Linked DNA regions of Homo sapiens. The protein of the gene in region 5 interacts with the protein of the main gene of each other region in a biochemical or structural test. Each region holds a gene or a part of one and is shown on either strand. Other genes may lie near its edges. The genes, in order: SKP2, PHB1, RINT1, USP4, RBL2, RAF1 and TOP1.

Region 1 (3,500 bases), on a different chromosome or scaffold from region 5:
CTTTTTGAACTTACGTGAGGGCCTGTCATTCCTGTGCTCAGAATCTTCTAGTGGTGCCTCATAGAATTCAGCGTCAAAGCCAAAGGCTTTATCATGACCTAGGAAGCCTGCATGACCTGGCTGCTCTCTGATTTTTCTACCCACCTACCTCTGCGCTCTACACTGGCCTCCTTGCTATGCCTCAAACACACATGCTGTTCCTTGGATCTAGAACACGTACACCAGATACTCACAGGGCTCACTCCCTCACTTTGTTCAAGCCTTTGCTTAGTGATCGTCATCTCAGTATGGCCTTCCCTGACCACCATGTTCAAACTTAATAACATCTGCTCTGAACTCTCTGTTCTCTCCCTTGCCCTGTTTAATTTTTCTGCACAGCACAGATCAATTTTACTATATCATATAATGTACTTATTTTTTGATGTGTGATTATCTGTTCCGCATTACTGGAATGAAGTCCCACGAAGGTAGTGTTTTGGGTCTGATTTACTACTCCTTCCCAACACCTAAAATGATACCTGGCACCATAGTAGGAGCTCAGTAAATATTTGTTGAATTAAGAAATGACAATACCCTTTTGTATTGCTCTTTTAGGTAAACTGTGCCTTTTGTAAACCTGAAAGAAAGCATATTAGTCTGTTCTCATGTTGTTAATAAAGACATACCCAAGACTGGGTAATTCATAAAGGAAAGAGGTTTAATTGACTCACAGTTCAGCCTGGCTGGGGAGGCCTCAGGAAACGTACAAGCTTGGTGGAAGGGGAAGCAAACGTCCTTCTCCACATGGCGGCATCAAGTGCAGAGCAAAGGGGTCGGGGAAGCCACTTGTAAAACCATAAGATCTTGTGGGAACTCACTTATCACCAGAACAGCATCAAATTACAGGGGCGGTTATCACCAGGTAACCGTCCCCATGATTTGATTACCTCCCACTGGGTCCCTCCCGCAACACATGGGGATTATGGGAACTACAATTCAAGATGAGATTTGGGTGGGGACACAGCCAACCATAGCAGAAAGGGAAGAAGATTTATTTGCCTTTTAAATAAGGTCACTACTGAGTCCACATCAGAGAGAAACAAGGCCTTCCTTTGCACCCAGAAGCACCACAATATCTTATTGATGTCAATGAATTGACAATGTCATTGAATGACATTTGAGAGGGTGGGACTTGCTCTGTACCACTCTTCATGCCACAGCCTCCGATTGGCTGGCTAGAGCTGAAGGGAAGAATAGGAAAAGTGTTCTGGGTTTCTCTTTTTGATTTGCTGAGAGAGTGTGGTGGTCACTTCAGGGTACATAGATGATGGAATGGGGAATTTAACACGAATTAAATTACTCATCACCACAATTATTTTTCTGTTCAACAGAAATGATTTTTCAAACAAAAATAATTGTGAGGATGAGTAATTTAATTTGTGCTAAATTCCTCATTTAAGCTAAATGTTGTATATTCTTTATGTGTTTGAAAAGACTCAGTAGACTTGATAGGGTGAAAGAATGGTGATGGCAAACACTTGTTTTCCCTCCAAAGGTGTTTCATGGGACTCCCTTCCGGATGAGCTGCTCTTGGGAATCTTTTCCTGTCTGTGCCTCCCTGAGCTGCTAAAGGTCTCTGGTGTTTGTAAGAGGTGGTATCGCCTAGCGTAAGTATTTTTCACCCCTTTGGCAAACGTAGGGGAGGAAGAGGAGAGGAAGGTTATTTATTCGTTTTGGTCTGATGAAACTAAAAACCAAGAAAAATAGAGCAGCGCAAAGCAAACTAGGTATCTTCATATTTTTATTAATCAGTGTCCTCATTTCACAGTGGAAGAGGAATTTCCTGGGAGGGATAAACTTACCAATGTCTGGAAACCTCTTTGCCCTGTATTCAGTGCAGCATGTGTTTATGGGATGCTGACTGTAGGCCAGGCGGTGTGCTTTAAGTGCGGAGAGAGTTACAGAGGTGCATGCAGACAGCGGTTCCTCACGCCGCTGGGCTGAGCAGTGAGCACAATAGGGAGAGGGAACACAGGCTTGGTGTTAGACCCGAGTGCACACCCAGCCTCTGCTGCTTACGCTCTGCATGACCTGAGTGAGTTAGTTGACACTGCTGAGCCTCAGTCTCCCCATATGTAAATGGGGATAATGGTTATGAGGAGGAAACCACTGGTTATGAGGATGAAATGTGAAGATGCTGGTGTAATGCCTGACTCACAGACATGTTCCACACAGAGTAGCCATTGGTGGGGTTGTGCTCTTTTTTTGGCAACACTTTTCAAGTGTGGAAGGTGAGTTGCATGTGGAAAGACTTGGTGAGCTGGAAAGGCAATAACAGGCCTGGAGCAAGAAAAAGGCTATGTTTATCAACTGGAACTTTTTACTATCTTCATGCCTTCTCATCCCTATCCTACCTCCTGGTCATTCTTTGCTTTGTGTTTAAAGGCCATCCGTCTGGCTTCTCCCTCCACATACTTAGAACTCCCTGTGTGAGATAGCAGGAGCCTCTTGCCTTCAAGGGCGTGCTGCTATTTACAGGTGTGGGTTGTTTGCTTAGAAGAGCCGCAGAGAGGGTTGCACACCTGGAATGCTGGTGCAAGTGGCAGGCAAGTTTCACTTACCCTCACCGCACTCAACCCCACTTTGGTTTTCTTTTTCTGCCAGCTATGCATTTATCCTCTTCTTGCAGAGTCTGTTAATCCCATTTTAAAATTTTATTGTATATATTTAAGGTATACAGCATGATATTTTGTTATAAGTATGTGAAATGGCTGCTATCATTAACATATTCATTATCTCACATAGTTACCTATTTTTTGTGGCAAAAGCACCTAAAATTTACTCTTTTAGCAAACATTCTGACTACAATACAGTATTATCGACTCTAGTTCTCCTGTTGTATACTATATCTTGGGATGTGTTCATCCTGCATATCTGTGGCTTTGTATTCTTTGACCTACATCTCCCTTAGAGTCTGTTAAACTTCATCTCAGTTGTCATAAAAGTAATTACTGACATTTATTAAGCACTTGCTTTGTGACAGGTGCAGTGTTTGCAATTTAATCCTCCATATGATTTTAAGTGATGGTGTTTGTGTCATCTCAGCTTCAGAGGTGAGGAAACTGCAGGGTCAGGAATAGTAGGTTGAGAGATAAGTGGAAAGGCAGGAATCTAAAGTTTGGCTAACTCCACGGTCTTAACCATCATACCATATCTAGTTATGCTTGGCTTAGGGTTCAGGTAGCTCCCAAATTCATTTTTCTGTGAGGTGTTCATCTTCCTAAAAAATGTATATTATTTGGAAAGAAAATGAATTGTTCCAAAACTTCTCCCAGGTTGTTGTTATTGAATGCTGGTTAAGCTATAGTTTGCCTTCTTGCAAGAGGAAACATCAAGCATGAGATTCAAGACAACCAGAGCAGTGCTGATCTGGTGTCAATACCAATACCTTGGAGGCCAAAATGGATTTCTGTCTGGGCAAGAAAGATACAAAAGTGTGCCACTCTCTTAAGGATATCTTA
Region 2 (3,500 bases), on a different chromosome or scaffold from region 5:
GATGAGAGGATTTTTATGACATGTCATTGTCCTTTCTTCCTAGTGGATGCTGGGCACAGAGCTGTCATCTTTGACCGATTCCGTGGAGTGCAGGACATTGTGGTAGGGGAAGGGACTCATTTTCTCATCCCGTGGGTACAGAAACCAATTATCTTTGACTGCCGTTCTCGACCACGTAATGTGCCAGTCATCACTGGTAGCAAAGGTGAGTCTTGCCTATGGTTCAGGTAAAGTAGGGAGTGTGGAAGAGGTGCTCTGTTCTTCTGTGTCACAGGAGCATCTGTGGGATACCAGGATCCAAAAGAGTTTGAACTGTACATCATAGGAATGACTAGACTACTTGCCCTGGAGAGCTTGATATGGAATCTTAGAAATACCCACTTATGGCTGGGTGCGGTGGTTCATGCCTGTAATCCCAGCACTTTGGGAGGCTGAGGCAGGTGGATCACCTGAGGTCAGGAGTTCAAGACCAGCCTGGCCAATGTGGTGAAACCCCATCTCTCCTAAAAATACAAAAATTAGCCGGTGGTGGGGGGTGCCTGTAATCCCAGCTACTTGAGAGGCTGAGGCAGGAGAATTGCTTGAGCCTGGGGGGCGGAGGTTGCAGTGAGCTAAGATTGTGCCACTTCACTGCAGCCTGGGCAACAGAGTGAGACTCTGTCTCAAAAAAAAAAAAAAAAAAAGCCTGCTTCTAATCTTCCCATCTCTTTGGAATTTCTTTCCGTACTGTTTTGCAGTTGTTTTCAGGATACATTATGTACCTATTTCTAAAACTATTGATAGGAGCTTCCAGAGATCAGGGAGTTGTAGGTATTAATACATTGCCCACCTCTCTTGGTGCCCAGTTCAGGGCTGTCTCATGGGCGCTTGGTCCATATTGTTGACATCTGTAAGCAAGCCGTGACAGTGCTTTGGCTCCAGGCAGGCCTGAATTGTCCAGGGGAAAGTATAATTCTCTCCCTGGATCCTTTAAATGGTCCAAGTAATGAGAAGCAGAACATAGGATCAGTCTGTTAACCCCTTATATGTGTTACACATTTGACAGAGTGCTTTTACGTCTGTTTTCTCCTTCAATTTTCCCCAACATTTCCGCAAGGCCCAGAAAGCAAATGAAATTGTCCCCATTCTCATAGACAGGGAAATAAGCTCAGGTTGGCTAAGGCTTAGAGAGGCCACATCATTAGTAAATAGCCCAGATCTTTGGACTGATAGTCTAACACCGTTTCCACCAGACCCGAACTAACCTCTCCAAGGCTGACTCCTGACTTGGCCACAATCACCAGAGCATGTAAAGGCCTCACCCTACAATTCTTAGCATTGCCCTGTCTATTGTCTTAAAATGTTCAGTGTTGCAAACTTTGCATGGCACCTGTTAGACATATAATCTGAATTATGTATATCTGAGGGCATTCAGGGGATACCAAAAAGCTGCTATCACTGAAGCCTCTTAAGAAATTATAAACTCTTTATGATGCTCTATTGGGTTCTCTGCCAAGGAAACCAGGCATACCTGCACCTTGCCCTCTGGGATCTTATAATCAGCAGATTTGCTTATAAATTGTAGCAAATTTGGAGCCAGGCACAGTGGTGCGTGTCAGCTACTCAAGAGGCTGAGGCAGGAGAAATGCTTAAGCTCAGGAGCTTGAGTCTAGCCTGGGCCACATAGCAAGACCTTGTCTCTAAAAATAAAAAATAAAAATTGCCAGGCGTAATGGCTCACACCTGTAATTCTAGCATTTTGGGAGGCTGAGGCAGTTGGATCACTTGAGCCCAGGAGTTTGAGACCAGCCTGGGAAATATGGCGAAACCCCAGCTCTACAAAAAGTACAGAGATTAGCTGGGCGTGGTGGTCTGTGCCTGTGTAGTCCCAGCTACTTGGAAGGTGTAGGTGGGAGGATCAACTGAGCCCAGGAGGTCAAAGCGGCTACAGTGAGCTGTGATCTTACCACTGCACTTCAGCCTGGGCAACATGTGACCCTGTCTCAAAATACATAAATAAAAATTGTAGCAAATTGGAGTAGGAGAGGTCATATAAAAGACCACTTGTGGCCAGGTGCGGTGGCTCACACCTGTAATCCCAGCACTTTGGGAGGCTGAGGCAGGTAGATCACCTGAGGTCAGGAGTTTGAGACCAGCCTAACATGGTGACACCCTGTCTCTACTAAAAATACAAAACAGCTGGGTGTGGCGGCGCGTGCCTGTAATCCCAGCTACTCAGGAGGCTGAGGCAGGAGAATTGCTTGAATCTGGGAGGCAGAGGTTGTAGTGAGCCGAGATTGTCCCATTGTACTCCAGCCTAGGCAACAAGAGCAAAAACCTGTCTCAAAAAAAAAAAAAAACAAAAAAAAAACACTTGTTTTCCTACAGTGGTTTTTATTTTTAACTCCAGTGTTTGTCCCCTACCCTAAGATTTACAGAATGTCAACATCACACTGCGCATCCTCTTCCGGCCTGTCGCCAGCCAGCTTCCTCGCATCTTCACCAGCATCGGAGAGGACTATGATGAGCGTGTGCTGCCGTCCATCACAACTGAGATCCTCAAGTCAGTGGTGGTGAGTGAACAGGGGCCTTTAGCCTCGAGCCCAGAGCACCACCCTGGGAGGGTGCCAGGTGGCAGGAAGCGCTTGGCAGTGGGTTGGTTGGGATGTGGCTGCTAGTTTCCTGGTTCCTTTTCTGCTTCCTCATTAACCTGACCTGCCCTTCTGCTCCTCCCTTTGAAACCAGGCTCGCTTTGATGCTGGAGAACTAATCACCCAGAGAGAGCTGGTCTCCAGGCAGGTGAGCGACGACCTTACAGAGCGAGCCGCCACCTTTGGGCTCATCCTGGATGACGTGTCCTTGGTAAGATCCTTCGGGAGACCGAGGAGGGGAAGGGGCTGCAGTTCTCGTTTAGGTGCCTGGCTCCATTTCTGGGTAGACGCTATTAGGTCCTCCCTTCTGCTTTGCTAGATGTGAGACTTGAAAACACGGAAACATGCTGAGGTGAGGCAGTCTCCGTGGGTTTTTCAGTTGAGGGTTCTTTTACCTTCCCCCTGCCACACACATTTTTCTTATGACCTCTGGTTGTATCCAGATAGTCTCTAACCACTAAATGTTTTACCTTCTCCAAACTGTTACCCAGAGAGTGATGCCTTGTTAACCCTGTTTGACACAGGCAGAAACTGCCTGGTAGAGACCAGAGAACAGCTCGGGTAGTCCTTCTCCCTAGCACAGACCTCCCAGCCTGACTCCTGGGAGCTTCCTAACACTTTACAGTCCGAAGCTCAGTGAAGTAAGCTCTGGGAACCCCAGTGAAAGGTGATAGAGTGTAAACGAACGGTTGGATTCCCCCAGGCCTGGTATAGGGGGCAAGGGACATCTCTGAGGCGTAAGCTATCCTCTTGAGACACTATAGCTTGTGTGTTTATATGACATTGGATGTCATAACTCAGAAAGCAATGCAGGCAGGATAGCGTTTCAGGTTGAGGAGGGTGAGGGGAAGGGGTCGTGTTTCTAGATTC
Region 3 (3,500 bases), on a different chromosome or scaffold from region 5:
AGCCTGACCAATATGGTGAAACCCATCTCTACTAAAATTACAAAAATTAGTCCAGTGTGGTGACATGTGCCTGTAGTCCCAGCTACTTGGGAGGCTGAGGCAGGAGAATCGCTTGAACCTGGGAGGTGGAGGTTGCAGTGAGCAGAGATTGTGCCACTGCACTCCAGCCTGGGTGACAGAGCGAGACTCCAACTCACAAAAAAAAAAAAAGAAAAGAAATACCAAGTGCTTACTATTTGCTTTGCTTTGTTTTGCAATGATAACTCAGCAATATCTGATGCCCAAGAGCGGAAATACCATTTTTCCTACAGTATATGAACACAAGTCCTCAATTATATGTATGAACAGCAGTAACAAAACAGGAATGTAGCCCTTTAGAAAAAAAACAGAAATGTGAAGAGAGTCAGATTTTAACTTAAACCAGCAAAGGTATAGAAACTCTAACATTTGTTACCAATAAAAACCAAGGACAAGAGCTGGCAAAACACACCTTGCTTAACACATTAGTCTGCCGGTTCCCTCTGAAGTGATACCTGAACCTCTTCTGAAGAGGAGTCAGCATAACCTGGATGGGCAGGATGACAGAAGGGGAGGCAGGAAGAGAGTATTTTTCTGGGAGTTGCTTTGGCTCAGTAAGTAATTCATCTCTGACATAATCAAGTCAAGGAAAAAGAATCAAAAGCATACCTAATATACACACACATATGTATGTATACACACACAATAAATTTTTCCAACAAATGTATCAGATACTCAGTAGAGTTAATTATGATGCAAATAATATGTAACCTAATTTTATATTGAATAAACATACAGTTAATTCTTTATATTGAATATACATTCAGTTAAAATGCACAAAAAGCCAGGCATGATGATAGTGAATCATGCCTGTAATCCCAGCACTTTGGGAGGCTGAAGCAGGCTAATCACTTGGGCCACTTCACAGGAATTTGAGACGTGCCTAGGCAATACGGCAAAACCCTATCTCTACAAAAAACAACAAAAATTAGCGGGGCATGGTGGCACGTGCCTGTAGTCCCAGCTACACAGGAAGAAGAGGTGGGAGAATCAACTGAGCCTGGGTGGTCAAGGCTGCAGTGAGCCATGACTGCACCACTGCACTTCAGCCTGGGTGACAAAGTGAGACCATGTCTTTAAAAAAAGCACAAAAATGAGCCAGGTGCAGTGGCTCTCACCTGTAATCCCAGCACTTTGGGAAGCTGAGGCGGGTGGATCACCTGAGGTCAGGAGTTCGAGGCCAGCCTGACCAACATGGAAAAACCCCGTCTCTACTAAAAATACAAAATTAGCTGGGCATAGTGGTGCACGCCTGTAATCCCAGCTACTCGGGAGGCTGAGGCAGGAGAATCGCTTGAACCCGGGAGGTGGAGGCTGTGGTGAGCCGAGATCATGAGATCACGCCACTTCATTCCAGCCTGGGCAACAAGAGCGAAACTCCATCTCAAAAAAAAAAAAAAAAAAGCACAAAAATGGTATTAGAATTAATCTATAAATCTTTCCTAAAATAGTAACAAAAAAAATTCAAGTATCATTTGATTAAATTCACGCTATGACACTAAAGGTTTCCTCCCAATTGCCCATTTGTTCTGTTGCCCCAAGAGACCTTTTTGTGCTATGAACTTGGATCAGTCATGTATCCCGGAACTCTTCCTTACAGCCCTCACACCTACAAGCAATTCACTTTGCAAGAGTACAGTCCACCACTCAGTGGACATTTACAGACCAAGTCCAAACACAGGATTCTTATTTGGCTTTCTTGGCCACTTTGAAAAAGTTTTACTCTCTAGCCACAAACCCATTCTAGAAAAAAGAAATTTTAGTAAGTTTTCAGCTGCAACAAAGATACGAGGTTTGTAGTTTCAAAAGCTGACAAAACAGTGTCTCCAGGTAACTGTATATCTCCGGGGCACTGGCAGGTCGACTTAAGCCAACAGTTTGTGATTGAGGGGGTGCGATGAATGGCCAATGAAGCTGTGCTAAAATTTCCTCAAAATCACTGCAATGGAAAAGTAACACATACATTTCAGTACATCACCAAATGATCACCAAATACCCATCGGAAAGCAATTACCACAAAATATGGGTAAATTCCCTACCTTGTAAGCTTGTCCTTGAGAATTTTATGCCAGAATTTAACTGTGGCTCTCATGAAACCAAGAAGATGAGTACAAGATGATTCCTGAAGTTTAATGTCAAGTTCTGCCATAGACACTAGAGTGGAGGCTGCCTCCGGTACATTATTGGTCATCAGATATTGCTGAATGTTATCACTGTAAACAAAGTAAAGCAAATTTTTTTTTCTTTTGAGACAGAGTCTCACTCTGTTGCCCAGGTTGGAGTGCAGTGGCATGATTTGGCTCAATGCAAATTCTGTGTCCCAGGTTCAAGTGATTCTCCCGCCTCAGCCTCCACAGTAGCTGGGATTACAGGCATGCGCCCCCATGCCTGGCTAAATTTTTTGTATTTTTAGTAGAGACAGGGTTTCACCATGTTGGCCAAGCTGGTCTTGAACTCCTGACCTCAAGTGATCCGACCGCCTCGGCCTCCCAAAGTGCTGGGATTAGAGGCGTGAGTCACCGTGCCCAGCCGAAAGCAAATTTAAAGAACGGATTGCTCAGAATAATTTCAAATTCGGAAAAAGTGCTTCTTCTTCATGTTTTATATAAAGTTACATCCAAGGAAGAATGAAGCACCACCCTGAGGTAGCCTTTGTTTTTTAACAAAGCACCACCCTGAGGCCTTTTACCAAGGCCTCTCTGGGAGCCTAGAGTCCTCTACTTCTGCATTCTTCTAAGAGCAGCAGCCTGCAGCCTATGTTCAAGACCTCTCCCGGGACCTTTCCCTTCCTACTCCTCCTGACAGACCTGTTTTGTGTCATATTCCTTTGGGCACCACTCATTTCTGATAAATCTGCCTTTTACAAAGTCTTCAGTATCTTAATCCAAGGGAATAATGTGGTAGTATCTGGTAAAGTCAAGTATGATGGTCTTCAATTGTTACATACTTTGCCCAGCTGAACTTGATTTCCCACTTCAAAGAAATATAATTCCAGGCGGGGCTTGGTGGCTCAACCCTGTAATCCCAGCACTTTGGGAGGCCAACATGGGTGGATCTCCGGAGGTCAGGAGTTTGAGACCAGCCTGGCCAACTTGGTGAAACGCCCCCCGCCCCCCCTTCCCCATCCCCCATCTCTACTAAAAATATAAAAACTAGCCAGGCATGGTGGTGGGCACCTGTAATCCCAGCTACTCGGGAGGCTGAGGCAGGAGAACTGCTTGAACCCGGGAGGCGGAGGTTGCAGTGAGCCAAGATCATGCCACTGCACTCTAGCCTGGCAACAGAGTGAGACTCCGTCTCAAAGAAAAAGAGGCCAGGCGTGGTGGCCTCTTTGGGAGGCCAACATGGGTGGATCACCGGAGGTCAGGAGTTCGAGACCAGCCTGGCCAACTTGGTGAAACCCTTCCCGTCTCTACTAAAAA
Region 4 (3,500 bases), on a different chromosome or scaffold from region 5:
CTCGGCCTCTCAAAGTGCTGGGATTACAGGTGTGAGCCACTGCGCCTGGCCTTGTGTGTACATTTTTGGAACTCCTTTGGTCCTTAAAGGAAAACTGAAGTGGGTGGTGTTTCTAACCCATTTTCAGAAAGAGCATTAGTTTAGTGCTGTTCATGTCAAGCAAAACAGTGTAACCAAACTGTCTGCCTGGAGTGGGACTTCTGTAAAGATCATTATGAAATTAATGACTTGTGGCCGGGTGCGGTGGCTCACGCCTGTAATCACAGCACTTTGGGAGGCCGAGGTGGGCAGATTACCTGAGGTAGGGAGTTTGAGACTGTCCTGACCAACATGGAGAAACCCTGTCTCTACTAAAAATACAAAATTAGCCAGGTGTGGTGGCACACACCTGTAATCCCAGCTACGGGAGACTGAGGCAGGAGAATCACTTGAACCCGGGAGGCGGAGGTTGCGGAGAGCCGAGATCACACCATTGCACTCCAGCCTGGGTAACAAGAGCGAAACTCTGTCTCAAAAAAAAAAGAAGTTAATGACTTGTTTATTAGCAAACATGATTTTACCCATGAAAAGACTCCATTTAGACTGAGTGTGGTAGCTCATGCATGTAATCACAGCACTTTGGGAGGCCAAGGCAGGAGGATCACCTGAGATCAGGAGTTCGAGACCAGCCTGGCCAACATGGTGAAACTCCATCTCTACTAAAAATACAAAAAAATTAGCTGGGCCTGGTGATGCATGCCTGTAATCCCAGCTACTTGGGAGGCTGAGGCAGGAGAATTGCTTGAACCCAGGAGGTGGAGGTTGTAGTGAGCCAAGATCATACCACTGCACTCCAGCTTGGGCAACAAGAGCGAAAACTCCGTCTCAAAAAAAAAAAAAAAAAAAAAAGAGGCCAGGTGCAGTGGCTCATGCCTGTAATCCCAGCACTTTGGGAGGCCGAAGTAGGCGGATCACCTGAGGTCAGGAGTTTGAGACCAGCCTGCCCAACATGGTGAAACCCCGTCTCTACTAAAAATACAAAAATTAGCTGGGAGTGGTGACAGGTGCCTGTAATCCCAGTTAGTCAGGAGGCTGAGGCAGGAGAATCGCTTGAACCTGGGAGGCAGAGGTTGCAGTGAGCCAAGATTGTGTCACTATACTCCAGCCTGGGCGACAGAACAAGACTCCGTCTAAAAGAAAAAAAAAGAAAGACTGCATTTAAATAAGCATTTTGAAACCACTTGTTTTCTTTCTTTTATTCACTCTTTGAACAATCATTTCACTTAATGGATGCATACCCTGGGCCAGACTCTCTGTGCCATGTGGGGCCTGGGCCCTGCTCTTGCTCTTGTGACAGTGTTTTTTAGTGGGTATTGCATATGCCCCAAGTGGAAGGACCATAAAAAAGATTAAGGAAGCAGCTGCAGAAATTTATAATCTCAGCTTTTCTGCTACAGTAAATTTCTGTCTCTCTCTAGGTATCTTATTGACAGCCGGTGGTTCAAGCAGTGGAAGAAGTATGTGGGCTTTGACAGCTGGGACATGTACAATGTGGGTGAACATAACCTATTTCCTGGCCCAATAGACAACTCTGGGCTATTTTCAGGTATAGTAAATGTTGCTTTTCTAGCTAAACATTCACCTGGGCAGTGGCCTGATGTTATGTGCATCTGTAACATGGACGTTGTGAACTTTCCTAGTGTGAGGAGATAGAAACAAGTATCCTCATTTTGCATCTATAGCAGAAGTCTTTGCAAACCCTTAATGAGAAGTTAAGCTACTTTTTTCCCTTAAATTAACTGCATCTGATAAGAGTATGCTTCTAACATTTTAACTTTCTCTCTTTGCAAATTAGTTCTGCTAGCTATTTCACATTTTAAGTTAGTATATGGAATGGAAAGAAATAGGATGTCATTTTGAAATTGTATCTAAAATTTAAGAACCAGAATTTTTTGTTACCTTTGCAGTGGAACAAATTGTAAACCTGTGAACTTTCATCAAGAATTCCTGTGATGGCTGTTTTTATCATATAACTAGTGTGAGGAGAGGTTGAAGGTCAGTAGACAGAGTTATGACTGTAGTCAGCTCCCAATGGGAACTGTGGGAAAAGCGACATGTAACACACTAGAGCTTGCTTGCACTTGTACATGCACTGAGATGACAGAGTCAGCTTTTCCCAGGCTTTCTTTTGCCTGACTTCAGACCTCTTTAAAGTCATGATAGAGGTGATCTGTCATGGGTGTCAAAAATCAGGGCAGTGCCAGGAGTGGTGTCTCACGCCTGTAATCTCAGCACTTTGGGAGGCCAAGGCAGGTGGATCACCTGAGGTCAGGAGTTCGAGACCAGCCTGGCCAACATGGTGAAACCCCGTCTCTACCATGTTGGCTAGGCTGGCCTTGAGCTCCTGGGCTCAAGCTATCTTCCTGCCTCAGCCTCCTTAGTCACTGAGACTACAGTGTTCTACCACTCTCAGCTGTTTTTTAAGTTTTTTGGTAGAGACGGGGTCTTGCTATGTTGCCCAGGCTGGTTGAACTCCTGGCCTCAAGCCATCCTCCCACCTTGGCTTCCCAGAGTGTTGGTGTGAGCCACTGTGCCTGGCCTAACTTGGATATTTTTAAAACTGAGCAATGCTTCAGCTCAGACCTTGTTTTAGGAGAGGTCTACATGGTATAAACAATATCATTTACTTTGTTTCCTGAAATAGGTCAAATGGTGGCACTATGCCACGAAGTTGCCCTAAGGAATCATTTCATTATGTTCACATTTTGTTCTTTTTCTCATTTTTATGAAATGGAGAATTCTTAAGGTTTTAAATTCAGGCATACTTTGGCTTATTGTGCTTTGCTTTATTATATGTTGCAGATACTGCATTTTTAGCAAATTTTGTAGGTATTTGGCAACGCTGCCTTGACAATCTGTCAGTTCCATTTTTACAACAGCATGTGCTCACTTCATGTCTCTGTTACCACATTTTGGTAATTCTCAAAATACTTCAAAGTTTTTCATTATTATTTGTTATGGTGATCAGTGATCAGGGAGCTTTCTTTTTTTTTTTGAGACGGAGTTTTGCTCTTGTTGCCCAGGCAGGAGTGCAGTGGCATGATCGTGGCTCATGGCAACCTCCACCTCTTGGGTTCAAGTGATTCTCCTGCCTCAGCCTCCCGAGTAGCTAGGATTACAGGCATGTGCCACCACGCCCGGCTAATTTTGTATTTTTAGTAGAGATGGGGTTTCTCCATGTTGGTCAGGCTGGTCTTGAACTCCCGACCTCAGCCTCCCAAAGTGCTGGGATTACAGGCATGAGCCACCATGCCCAGCCAACAGGGATCTTTCATGTTGCTATTGTAATTGTTTTGGGGCATCATGAAGGGAGCCCATGTAAGACAGTGAACTTAATTGGTAATTATTGTGTGTATTCTCGCTGCTTCACCAACCAGCCATTCCATCTCTCTCTCTCTCCTCAGGCTTTGCTATTGCCTGAGACACAATGACACTGAAATTCGGCCACTTAGTAACCCTAA
Region 5 (3,500 bases):
GGCTAGTTTTTTAAAATTGTGGTTATATATATAACATAAAATTTACCATTCAACCATTTTTAAGTGTATGATTCAGTGGTACACAACCCATTATGGCTTAGTCTATTTTTAAGTATTCACACCAATGTCTGAATTTTTGAGAAGCATTTCTTCCTTCTTCTGTGTCCACTTCTAAGAGCTGTGCATCAGAGTGTTTTTAAAATTTAAAATATACATAGAAAGTTTGTAAGAAGTACTGATAGGAGTAAATCCTAACAAACTGTGGCTTAACATTTCTATTTCCAGATGATACAAAAGTAAATAAACTTACTAGATTTGTATTTGGTACAAAGCTGCAGAATCAGAAAGAATAGATTATGATCATTTTTTCTTATAAAATATCAAGAGATCTCAGGAAAACTGAGAAGTGGTAAGTACAAAGAAAATGAAGTTTAAAGTCAAGTCTTCCTAATCTGTAGATTAGGGAACGGAAAATTCTACAAAAATAGACTAAGAAAGACCAGCTGTCAGATCTTTCAAAAATGAGGACTTTTCATAAGGATCATCCATGTGTATTAAGTATACACTTAGAGTGATTTTTTTGGGGGGGTTGGGGGTAGAGATGGTATCTTGCTATGTTGCCCAGGATGGTCTTGAACTCCGGGGCTCAAGTGATCCTCCCCACTAGGTCTCCCACAGTGCTGGGATTACAGGCATGAGCCACCATGCCCAGCCTAGAGTGAATCCTGACTTTAAAACTGGTATTCCTTCTATAGCCAGTTCTTATCAATTACATTATAAAACTGATCTAGAAATAAGAATATTCTTTTAATTGGATCCAAGGATTTAGAACTCTCTGGATTTACTGAATTGCTCTTTAAAAAAGTAGTTCTATCTCACATATGTAAACTAAAACCTTTCACCTTGCAGATCTTCTAAGCAGCTGCCTAAAAAATACAAACCAGATAGATAGCAAAACTGCCCTTTTCTGTATTTCTTGGGCCAGCACTAATGTCACATTAACTAGGGTAGCACAGCTCAACAAAGTGGAACATACTCAGTTGTCTTAACTCACTGGCTTGTCTATACCTAACTGGATCATGCAGCTCTATCTTTAAGAAGGCTTTTCTATTTCTGATTTTAAAAGTAATATGTATTTGCCTTAAAAATTTTACAGAAATCACCAGGAATTCTATCACCCAACAATGATCTTAACAGTTTGGTTTTTCCATTTCCACTATTTTGTATGCTCATAAATAAACATACACTTTAAAAATAGGGATCATATTAAATATACAGCAGTCAGCCGGGCACGGTGCCTCATGCCTGTAATTCCAGCACTTTGGGAGAACGAGGTAGGCGGATCACTTGAGGTCAGGAGTTCAAGGCCAGCCTGGCCAATATGGCAAAACCCCTTCTCTACTAAAAATACAAAAATTAGCTAGGCGTGGTGGCGCATGCCTGTAGTCCCAGCTACTCAGGAGGCTGAGGCATGAGAATCGCTTGAACCCGGCAGGCAGAGGTTGCAGTGAGCTGAGATTGGGCCACTGCACTCCAGCTTGAGTGACAGAGCAAGACTCTGTCTCAATAAATAAATAAATAAATAAAGCAGTCTATCCTTTTTAAAAGATACCTGTTATATCATGCATTTTCCTGTGTTCTTAGTCTTTAAAGGCCCTTCTTTTAAGTGATCCATGTGGTACAAAAATGCATAGAATATTTTCTTCTATGTATACCCTATTAACTTCACTTGTAGGGTTAGATGAAATTTAAATTTCCAGATAGTAAGCCCCAAAATATTCTCCTAGTATTTTAAACTTACTCCTTCCAAGTCCTCCAGTATCAGCACGAACTTCAGTCACCCTTCTGGGAGTCAAAGGGGAGCCAGCAATGCAAATTTCATCTGCCCTTTCCAGGTTCTGAGGTGGCATGACCTATGAAGAATTGGTTACACAGAATGCCAGTATCCAAAAAAGCACTTTAATTACAAATACAATAGTAATCTAAGGCAGAAAAAGTATCTTAACAATTATTCCATCTAAATAAAATCAGCTGTCTTTCCCATTTTAATAATAAAGTTAAAAAAAAAACTTTTGGCAGTCAAAAAATTCAAAACCTTGTAATTGGATACTAAATATGAGTCAAACTTCATTACTGGTTTGGAGAGTTTGAATATCAACCACTCTAAAGCAGGAGTCCCCAACCCCTGGGCCATGGACCCTGTTAGGAACTGGGCAACATAGCAGGAGGTGAGCAGCAGGCAAGTGAGCATGCGAGCAAAGCTTCATCTGTATTTAAAGCTGCTCCCCATCGCTCACATTGCCGCCTGTGCTGGCCTCCTGTCAGATTAGTGGTGGCATTAGATTCTCACAGGAGTGTGAACCCTATTGTGAACTGCACACATAAGGGATCTAGGTTGCATGCTCCTTATGAGAATCTAATGCCTGCTGATCTGTCACTGTCTCCCACCGCCCCCAGATGGGACCATCTAGTTGCAGGAAAACAAGCTCAGGGCTCCCACTGACTCTACATTTTGGTGAGTTGTATAATTATTTCATTATATATTACCACGTAATAATAATAGAAATAAAGTGTGCAATAAATGTAAGGCAGTTGAATCATCCCAAAATCTCTCCAACCCCCAACCCTGTCCATGGAAAAATTGTCTTCCATGAAACTGGTCCTTGGTGCCAAAAAGGTTGGACCACTGCTCTATGGGAAAGAAACTTGGTAAGGAAATCAAGAAAGAACACTGAATTTTTACTCTGTCACCAAAATCTTAGGACAACCACAAATTATCTGACTCGTTTCCTCTTTGACATGGGGTGAAATGTGACAGGTCACCTACCTTACTTAAGGGTGTATGTCTGCTGCCTAAACCCTGAAGGCTAGGCAGTGAGCCAAGGCCATGGTGCCCAGCCAAGGAACAGGTGTCCCTGAGAACCCCAACATCCCAGAGAAGATCTGAGAAACTACCAAGGAAAACAGTCCCATCGTGCACACACATAGTAGGCAAAGAGCCAGAAAATTAGCTTAAAAGCAGCTTAGCGATGGGAGGTGGCGAGGATCTCTAGAGCTGTCCTGCTGCTACCTAGGAGTACCCTGTATATAAGTCTTTTATTTTTCCCCACCACCTCTGCCTCCTCCATATGTAAGTCTTAATAAACGTTATCTACTTACCAAGCTGGACTTGTCTGAGTCATTCTTTGGTCTCTTGGCACCTTCCCAATTTGTGGGTAGAGAGGGACGTTACAGTCCAAGATTTTTCTCATAACAAGGTGTAATTATAACATATTAAACCTAATTGCCACCCTCCCATCCCCAAAAGGATTATTAATAGATTAGATATTGATGTATTTTTCTCATAAAAAGATGTTATTTTCACAAACCTCTTCACATGTAGGAACTCTGTTTTCATTGTCTCTAATTTTTTCCCAGAGTGGAGACTCTGGTTTCCATGCCAAATGATCTAAGATCTGTTCTTCAATCTGATTAAGGTGTTTTACCACCTCTCTACAAAG
Region 6 (3,500 bases), on a different chromosome or scaffold from region 5:
TTCAAATTATCAAGAAAAATAAAAGCCATACAGAAATATATATCCAGATATATGCAAATTCCTTATTCTAAGATATGCTGCGTTTAATATTTCCATAGTATTTTCACATTAAACATTATCTGATTACACATTATGTGTGTGTGTGTGTGTGTGTGTGTGTGTGTGTATACATAATATATTTTTTTTTGGAGACAGAGTCTTGCTCTGTCACCAAGGCTGGAGTGCAGTGGTGCCATCTCAGCTCACTGCCTACCACGTTCAAGATTCTCCTGCTTCAGCCTCCCAAGTACCTGGGCCAAAAGGCACATATCACCACACCCACCCAGTTTTTTGTATTTTTAGTAGAGATGGGGTTTCACCATGTTGGCCAGGCTAGTCTGGAACTCCTGACCTCAAGTGGTCCATCTGCCTCGGCCTCCCAAAGTGCTGGGATTACAGGTGTGAGCTACCGTGCCTGGCCTAAAGTAAGATATTTTGGATGTAGATTTTACTTTAGGTTTCAAATTCATGTGTGTTAACACTGAGCAGTAGATAAACGCAACAAAACTGATTATAAAGCTGGAAAACAGAGTAAAGAAAGACAAGTTATATGCAAACTCAGAGACACATGAGAAACAATATTTATGCTGAAAATCTAATTAAATGTTTTTAAAGACACTAGTCTATTTAAATACATGGTTTTAGCAAATGCATCGGCCACAACATGCATTTCAAAGTTAAGGGTTTTATTTTTATCAAATCACTGTATTAAGTTTTAGGACCCTTTCCATTGAGGTTGAACTCAGTACATACTGAGGAAAGCAGAATCTCAAGCTCTTTAAAATGTAATGACATATTAAGAAATATGCTATGATAACAGAAGAAGCTACAGTCAAAGTCACTTTCCAGAATGTAAGACCTACAGGTCCATAAACAGAAATTTCTACCTTTTCTGTACCACCAGTATCAAGTTCCACAGAAGCAGCAAGGGGTTTCCACGTAGAGAGGAGGGAATGCGAAGAAACTCTTATTTTTTGTCTTCAAGCTTCCAACCCCACCACCCCAAATAACTTTCTAAAAGAAAAGCTATAGGTAAAAAATTACCTAACAGGCATCCTGGAAACAGACTCTCGCATACGACGCATAGTCAAAGAAGGTAGTGCTGGGACTCCACTATCACCAATAGTGGAATTTGGAAACAATCTAAACAAAAGCAGGGAAAGACTGGTTTTTAGGCTTGCAGTAATCTTACAGAGACAATCAGCATGCCTTGCTTTTGCAAACTCAGAGCTACTAAAACTGAACTTTTCCCAGTCACATTTTCCTCAACTGTTTTACATTACCTAGAATAAAGGGAACAATATTCCAAATAACTGGATTTGAATGATTATTGAATGTGAATAATACTGACCTGCCAATAAACATACAGGCTCCTGTGTGCTTTTTCTTTTTCTTTTTTTTTAAGATGGAGTCTCACTCTGTTGCCCAGGCTGGAGTGCAGAGGTGTAATGGCGGCTCACTGCAACCTCCACCTCCCGGGTTCTCCTGCCTCAGCCTCCCAAGTAGCTGGGATTACAGGCACACACCACCATGCCCAGCTAATTTTCGTATTTTTTTTTTAATTATACTTTAAGTTTTAGGGTACATGTGCACAACATGCAGGTTTGTTACATAGGTATACATGTGCCATGTTGGTGTGCTGCACCCAGTAACTTGTCATTTAACATTAGGTGTCTCTCCTAATGCTATCCCTTCCCCCAATTTTTGTATTTTTAGCAGAGACGGGGTTTCACTATGTTGGCCAGGCTGGTCTCGAACTCCTGACCTCAGGTGATTCACCTGCCTTGGCCTCCCAAAGTGCTGGGATTACAGGCGTGAGCCACCGCGCCCGGCCCAGTGTGCATTTCTAGGAAATACTGGTCCTGTGTCTAGCTATATCAAAATAATATTTTTCAAACTACAGTATAACATTTCACAAACTATGTCACACACAGCTTCTCTGGAAACATTCCATCTTGAAAATGCATAGATAAAAGACTAAAATAGAAGGAATAAATCACAGAAAAGTGAGTAATTAGGCACCTTTTTTCCATGAGGTGGGCACTTGTGCTTAGTAATTTCACAGGTTATGTCAGCAAGCCTCATAAGAACAATGCAAGGAAGGTAATATCCCCTTTATTCAGATGCATGAACGAAAACTCAGATGTGGTTATGGTTAATGACAACACTGAGATTTTGACATATGTCTGTTAGACTCAAAAGCTTGTGCCGCCGGATGCGGTGGCTCACACCTGTAACCACAACACTTTGGAAGGCCAAGGCGGACAGATTGCTTGAGCTCAGGAGTTCGAGACCAGCCTGGGCAACATGCTGAAACCCCGTCTCTAGAAAAAATACAAAAATTAGCTAGGCATGATGGCATACACTTGTAGTCCCAGCTACTCAGGAGGCTGAGGTAGGAGGATTACTTGAACCCGAGAGGTCGAGGCTACAGTGAGCTGTGATCATGCCACTGCACTCCACTGTGGGAGACAGAGCGAGACCCTGTCTTTAAAAAATAATAATAAAAAAAAAGGCTGGGCGTGGTGGCTCATGCCTGTAATCCCAGCACTTTGGGAGGCCGAGGTGGGCAGATCATGAGGTCAAGAGATCGAGACCATCCTGGCCAAGATGGTGAAACCTCATCTCTACTAAAACTACAAAAATTAGCTGGGCGTGGTGGTGTGTGCCTGTAGTCTGAGCTACTCGGGAGGCTGAGGCAGGAGAATCACTTGAACCTGGGAGGCAGAGGTTGCAGTGAGCCGAGATCATGCCACTGTACTCCAGCCTAATGACAGAAAGAGACTTGTCTCCAAAAAAAAAAAAAAAAAAAAAAAAGGGTGGGGGACAAAAATAAGATAAATTTTAAAAGCTTGTGCCATTTGTGCTACTCAAGCTCTCATCACAAAATCAATACGTAAGTGACCATGAAAGCAAAAACATTTTCATCATGGTCTAATAATAACACTCCCTTGGTTTCTCTAGTACTGTCAAAAAAGGACAAAACTTTTAAACTTTTCATATACCTAGTTACAGTTTTTAAAAGGCAGTTTGGACCATGTACTTTTAATGTAAACTTTAAATTCTTTAATAACATTTTATCTATATGAAATATATTGTCTCCTGAAAGAAACAAGAATCTTTCAAGATTTTATATTCAAACAATTTTAAGTCCAAACAACTAAGTTTTCTCCAGTTTGAAGTGAAGAAAATAGCATCAACGGTGCTTTCTGCTCCTTCTCAATGTCAAAGGCTCATTCAGCATATTCAACAAAATACAGAGCAGTGTCTACTAGCAACCCCAGTAGATAATACTATTAAGAGCGAAAAGCAAAAAATCTTCTTGTTTTCATATCCTTTTGCTCCTTTCCTTACTGAATCACAGTCACAGTATGTCAATCTCAATTTGACAGATAACAAGTCCTACTCCTACCTGCTCATTCTGGAGTATGAATGCCACCAAACCTAGCTAGTTTCAGAAT
Region 7 (3,500 bases), on a different chromosome or scaffold from region 5:
CAGAAGTATGTAAGACATTAGATTTTACAACTTGTTTCAGGATATACAGAAACTACATTCCCTTCTCATAACCAAGAGAGGTGAGGAAGTAGAAGACATCTGCAGAGGCCAATATACAATCACCATACTTCAACACATTCTGACCACTGGACGTTAAGCAATATGAAGGCAGGGCCTACGTCTATCTTGTTTACCAACATAATTCCTAGCATCAAATGTATACTGTGTGGGGCACATTTGGGATTTCAGTAAATATTTGTGAATTAATAAATAAGATTACAATGTGACCAAAAAAATGGAGGCACTGTAGGAAGATCACCATAATGCTAACTATGAAAGTACTTGCCTTCTTTCAATGGGGAGGATTTTTAATTTGTCAAAGTGATTCTAGAGGACGAGAACGTTACATTTCAACAAAAAAAGGTTATCAGCACCATGAACCAGTGCAGCTCTCAACTATCCCCTTACCTTGATTCGTGAACTAGGGTTAAGCATGATGTATTTAATGGAACCTTGGATGTTCTCTGTCCAGGAAACCAGCCAAGTAACCTTGTTATCATGCCGGACTTCTTTCCACTTATGTCCTGGAGGAGGAGAAGGAACCTTGGCATCTCTGGAAATAACAGAGCACGAGGATAGTGAAATAAGATGTGAGGAATAATTTCACCTTTCATGACCCCAAGTGGACCTATCTGCTGAGCATAATTTTCCAAGTTTCCTTCTTAACAGTCAATACAGTAGTCCCACCTTATGCATGGTTTTACTTACCCTCAGCCAACTGTCATCCGAAAATATTCAATACAAAATTCCAGAAATAAACATTTTGTAAGTTTTAAATTGCACATCATTCTGAGGAGCATGATGAAATCTCTTGTAGTCCCACCTGGGATGCGTGAACCATATATACAACATACCATGCTGTATATGTCACTTGCCCATGGGTAACCTAGTAGCTGCCTTATTTATCAGGTTGACTTTAATGGTTTTACATTGCTTGTGTTCAAGTAATCCTTCTTTTACTTAATAAAGGCCCCAAAGTGTGAAAGTGGTGATGTTGGCAATTTGGATATGCCATACAGAAGCTGCACAGAGTGCTTTAAATGAAAAGGTGGAAATTATCGACTTAATAAAAAAAACTGTATGGTGAAGTTGCTAAGATCTAAGGTAAGAATTAACCTTCCATCTGTGAAATTGTGAAGAAGGAAAAAGAAAGTCGTGCTAGTTTTGCTGTTGTGCCTCAGACTGCAAAAGTTATAGCCACTCTATGTGATAAGTACTTAATAAACATGGAAAAGACATTAAATTTGGGGGTGGAAGACATCAACAGAAATGTGTTCCAAGTGACAGCAATTGGGTCGAAGTTGCAGGCATCCACTGGGGGTCTTGGAACATATCCCCTGTGGATGAGGGGAGACAACTGTACCTCAAAAACATCTGGAGACCTACGCATGAAATACTGTCCTGCTCTTAAGTATCTCCCTTCCCAAACAGTCCTGTGTAACCTGGGAAATATTCCCAAGTACAATAAAGGACGCCCTCCACCCCCTTTTTGGCCCATAGGATGAAGTGCGAGCTCACTTGCTACAGTTGATGATTATATCCTCGGGCATGATTCGTCTCTTCAGCATGCCCATCTTGGGGTGGTTGCCGCGGCCACGGAAAAGTCCAGGAGGCTCTATCTTGAAGTTAGCAATCCTCTCTTTGTGGTTATCCATAATACAGAATCCATATTCTTTCAGTAATTTTTCATTCTCCTCTTTGATTTTCTGGAAGACAGCAAGAAAGTACTCAAAATAGATTCAGATTGCTGTTCTCTACTAATGCATTTTATCTCTTGTGGGAGACTAAGTCAAGGTAGAGGAAAGTCTGAAAAATCACTAAAAAATAAATTCAAATAAAGGAAAACCTCTAGTGGTTTTCTCAAACTTAAATATCATAAAATTCCCCAAAAAGATCTGCCTATAAGGATTGATTTCAACTAGATTCAAAACTGATTCTTGTGTCTTAAAGGATATATGTTTGTAAATGTTATTTGGGTGTTTTTAAATGTACTTTAAAAATTCATACTGTTTTACTGAGTACTATCAAAACAGGAAATGGAGAAGAGTCTCTGATAGAGCCTCATAAAAGAATAGCTCAAGCCATTTAATTAAACAGCAGTTAAACAGCTTAAAAACGTGGGTTTTTAAGCTCAGACAGATCTGTCACTAATTTTTTTGTAGGTATACAGGTATATACACTCTATACTATGATCCTTGCTCCAAAAAGGTGAGGGATGGTGGGGGAGATTTTGAGCCTCCTTACCCTCTATTGACTCTGCGTTTTATATACTTATTGATTCAGTTTAACTAAGTTGTGCTGCCTTGTGGGTGGGAACAGATTCAGACCTTGCTGGCAGCAGGTGTCCTTGGCAGAGGCTCTGACAAGGGGATGTTTATAAAATCTATCTTTGGATCAATATTCTAAGAACAAAGCTCCAAAGTGATCTTTTAAGTTTCAAAATGCCCCTGAAGTAAATAATATACTAAATTTCACTAACTTGGAATATTGAGGATAAGATTTACCTGAGACACAAAGTCTGATGCAATTAACATTCTTATAGTAATGCATTAATTTTTAAACTAGTGACCAAATAAGTACCATGAAACAATGAGTTATATCAATACAATGGTCTGAATTACGTAAACACGCAAGTCCTTTAAAATACTGAAACTACAGGAATTTGAAGTGCAAAGAATTCCTTAAAATCCTTAACTTCTGGACTTCCGATTGGTAAAAATGAAATTCTAGCCTGGATTCCTTTAGTTCAGGGGCTGACAACTTTTTCTAGATAGAAAATATTTTAGGCTTGAGTGCCACACAGTCTCTTTTGCAACTACTCTCTTTTGCAACTACTCATCTCTGTCATTGTTGCATAAACACAGCCGTAGATAATATGTAGACAAGTAGAGGCAGCTGGTTCCAATAAATTTTTTTTTTTTTTTTTTACAAAAACAGGCAGCCTGTAGAAGAAAAATGACATCCCAGCTGGATACCAGAAAGATCCTTCAGTAATGAGGATGGCCAAGGCTGGAAGATGGAGATGGATGAGCATCACAAGATTCCAGAGTAAAATAGATCAAAGAGCAGGGAGGTACATGGCCAATATGATTTCATCTGTCTTAAATCCTTAATATCCAGTAGCCACTGTGGGACAGGTCTGCCCATCCTTAATTACTATATTATTGGCTGGAGTTACTGACTGGTTTTTAGGTCACTGAAGCACCAAGATTCCTGTACAGAGCTACTGAGCAAAGTACTTGTTCACAATTTTCAGTCTAACTAAAACCTTTAAGAAAATTTAGACTTTGAGAACTCTAAGTCTTTAGCATAGAATGATGTGAAATTACTGATGTTAATGTTGTGTCATAAGAACCAAGAAGAAAGTTAAATGAACCAATCACAATTCCAGAATTCTCCAGAGGTTTAATAAATTCTGTAGTACCAGTTTCTCTTCCTTG

Evidence for each region.
Region 1: of the proteins of RBL2 (region 5) and SKP2, one has a biochemical effect on the other in vitro, tested with the Homo sapiens proteins (one study listed by BioGRID).
Region 2: the proteins of RBL2 (region 5) and PHB1 form a complex in vitro, tested with the Homo sapiens proteins (one study listed by BioGRID).
Region 3: the proteins of RBL2 (region 5) and RINT1 form a complex in vitro, tested with the Homo sapiens proteins (one study listed by BioGRID).
Region 4: the proteins of RBL2 (region 5) and USP4 form a complex in vitro, tested with the Homo sapiens proteins (one study listed by BioGRID).
Region 6: the proteins of RBL2 (region 5) and RAF1 form a complex in vitro, tested with the Homo sapiens proteins (one study listed by BioGRID).
Region 7: the proteins of RBL2 (region 5) and TOP1 interact in a test that uses a peptide from one of them, tested with the Homo sapiens proteins (one study listed by BioGRID).

What each region holds. Positions count from the first base shown.
Region 1 is NC_000005.10:36,162,111-36,165,610, forward strand, and holds part of SKP2 (S-phase kinase-associated protein 2), read left to right. Parts: intron 1-1,534; coding exon 1,535-1,646; intron 1,647-3,500. UniProt on the Homo sapiens protein: Substrate recognition component of a SCF (SKP1-CUL1-F-box protein) E3 ubiquitin-protein ligase complex which mediates the ubiquitination and subsequent proteasomal degradation of target proteins involved in cell cycle progression, signal transduction and transcription.
Region 2 is NC_000017.11:49,408,383-49,411,882, reverse strand, and holds part of PHB1 (prohibitin 1), read left to right. Parts: intron 1-43; coding exon 44-205; intron 206-2,409; coding exon 2,410-2,552; intron 2,553-2,724; coding exon 2,725-2,841; intron 2,842-3,500.
Region 3 is NC_000007.14:105,545,701-105,549,200, reverse strand, and holds part of RINT1 (RAD50-interacting protein 1), read right to left. Parts: intron 2,292-3,500; coding exon 2,118-2,291; intron 2,018-2,117; coding exon 1,868-2,017; intron 653-1,867; exon of another isoform or gene 648-652; coding exon 491-647; intron 373-490; exon of another isoform or gene 234-372; intron 1-233. UniProt on the Homo sapiens protein: Involved in regulation of membrane traffic between the Golgi and the endoplasmic reticulum (ER); the function is proposed to depend on its association in the NRZ complex which is believed to play a role in SNARE assembly at the ER.
Region 4 is NC_000003.12:49,333,554-49,337,053, reverse strand, and holds part of USP4 (ubiquitin carboxyl-terminal hydrolase 4), read left to right. Parts: intron 1-1,457; coding exon 1,458-1,585; intron 1,586-3,500.
Region 5 is NC_000016.10:53,465,471-53,468,970, reverse strand, and holds part of RBL2 (retinoblastoma-like protein 2), read right to left. Parts: coding exon 3,369-3,500; intron 1,914-3,368; coding exon 1,802-1,913; intron 1-1,801. UniProt on the Homo sapiens protein: Key regulator of entry into cell division. Directly involved in heterochromatin formation by maintaining overall chromatin structure and, in particular, that of constitutive heterochromatin by stabilizing histone methylation.
Region 6 is NC_000003.12:12,605,118-12,608,617, forward strand, and holds part of RAF1 (RAF proto-oncogene serine/threonine-protein kinase), read right to left. Parts: intron 1,183-3,500; coding exon 1,084-1,182; intron 1-1,083. UniProt on the Homo sapiens protein: Serine/threonine-protein kinase that acts as a regulatory link between the membrane-associated Ras GTPases and the MAPK/ERK cascade, and this critical regulatory link functions as a switch determining cell fate decisions including proliferation, differentiation, apoptosis, survival and oncogenic transformation.
Region 7 is NC_000020.11:41,098,322-41,101,821, reverse strand, and holds part of TOP1 (DNA topoisomerase 1), read right to left. Parts: coding exon 3,485-3,500; exon of another isoform or gene 2,998-3,484; intron 1,767-2,997; coding exon 1,579-1,766; intron 1,165-1,578; exon of another isoform or gene 1,030-1,164; intron 651-1,029; exon of another isoform or gene 614-650; coding exon 469-613; intron 1-468. UniProt on the Homo sapiens protein: Releases the supercoiling and torsional tension of DNA introduced during the DNA replication and transcription by transiently cleaving and rejoining one strand of the DNA duplex.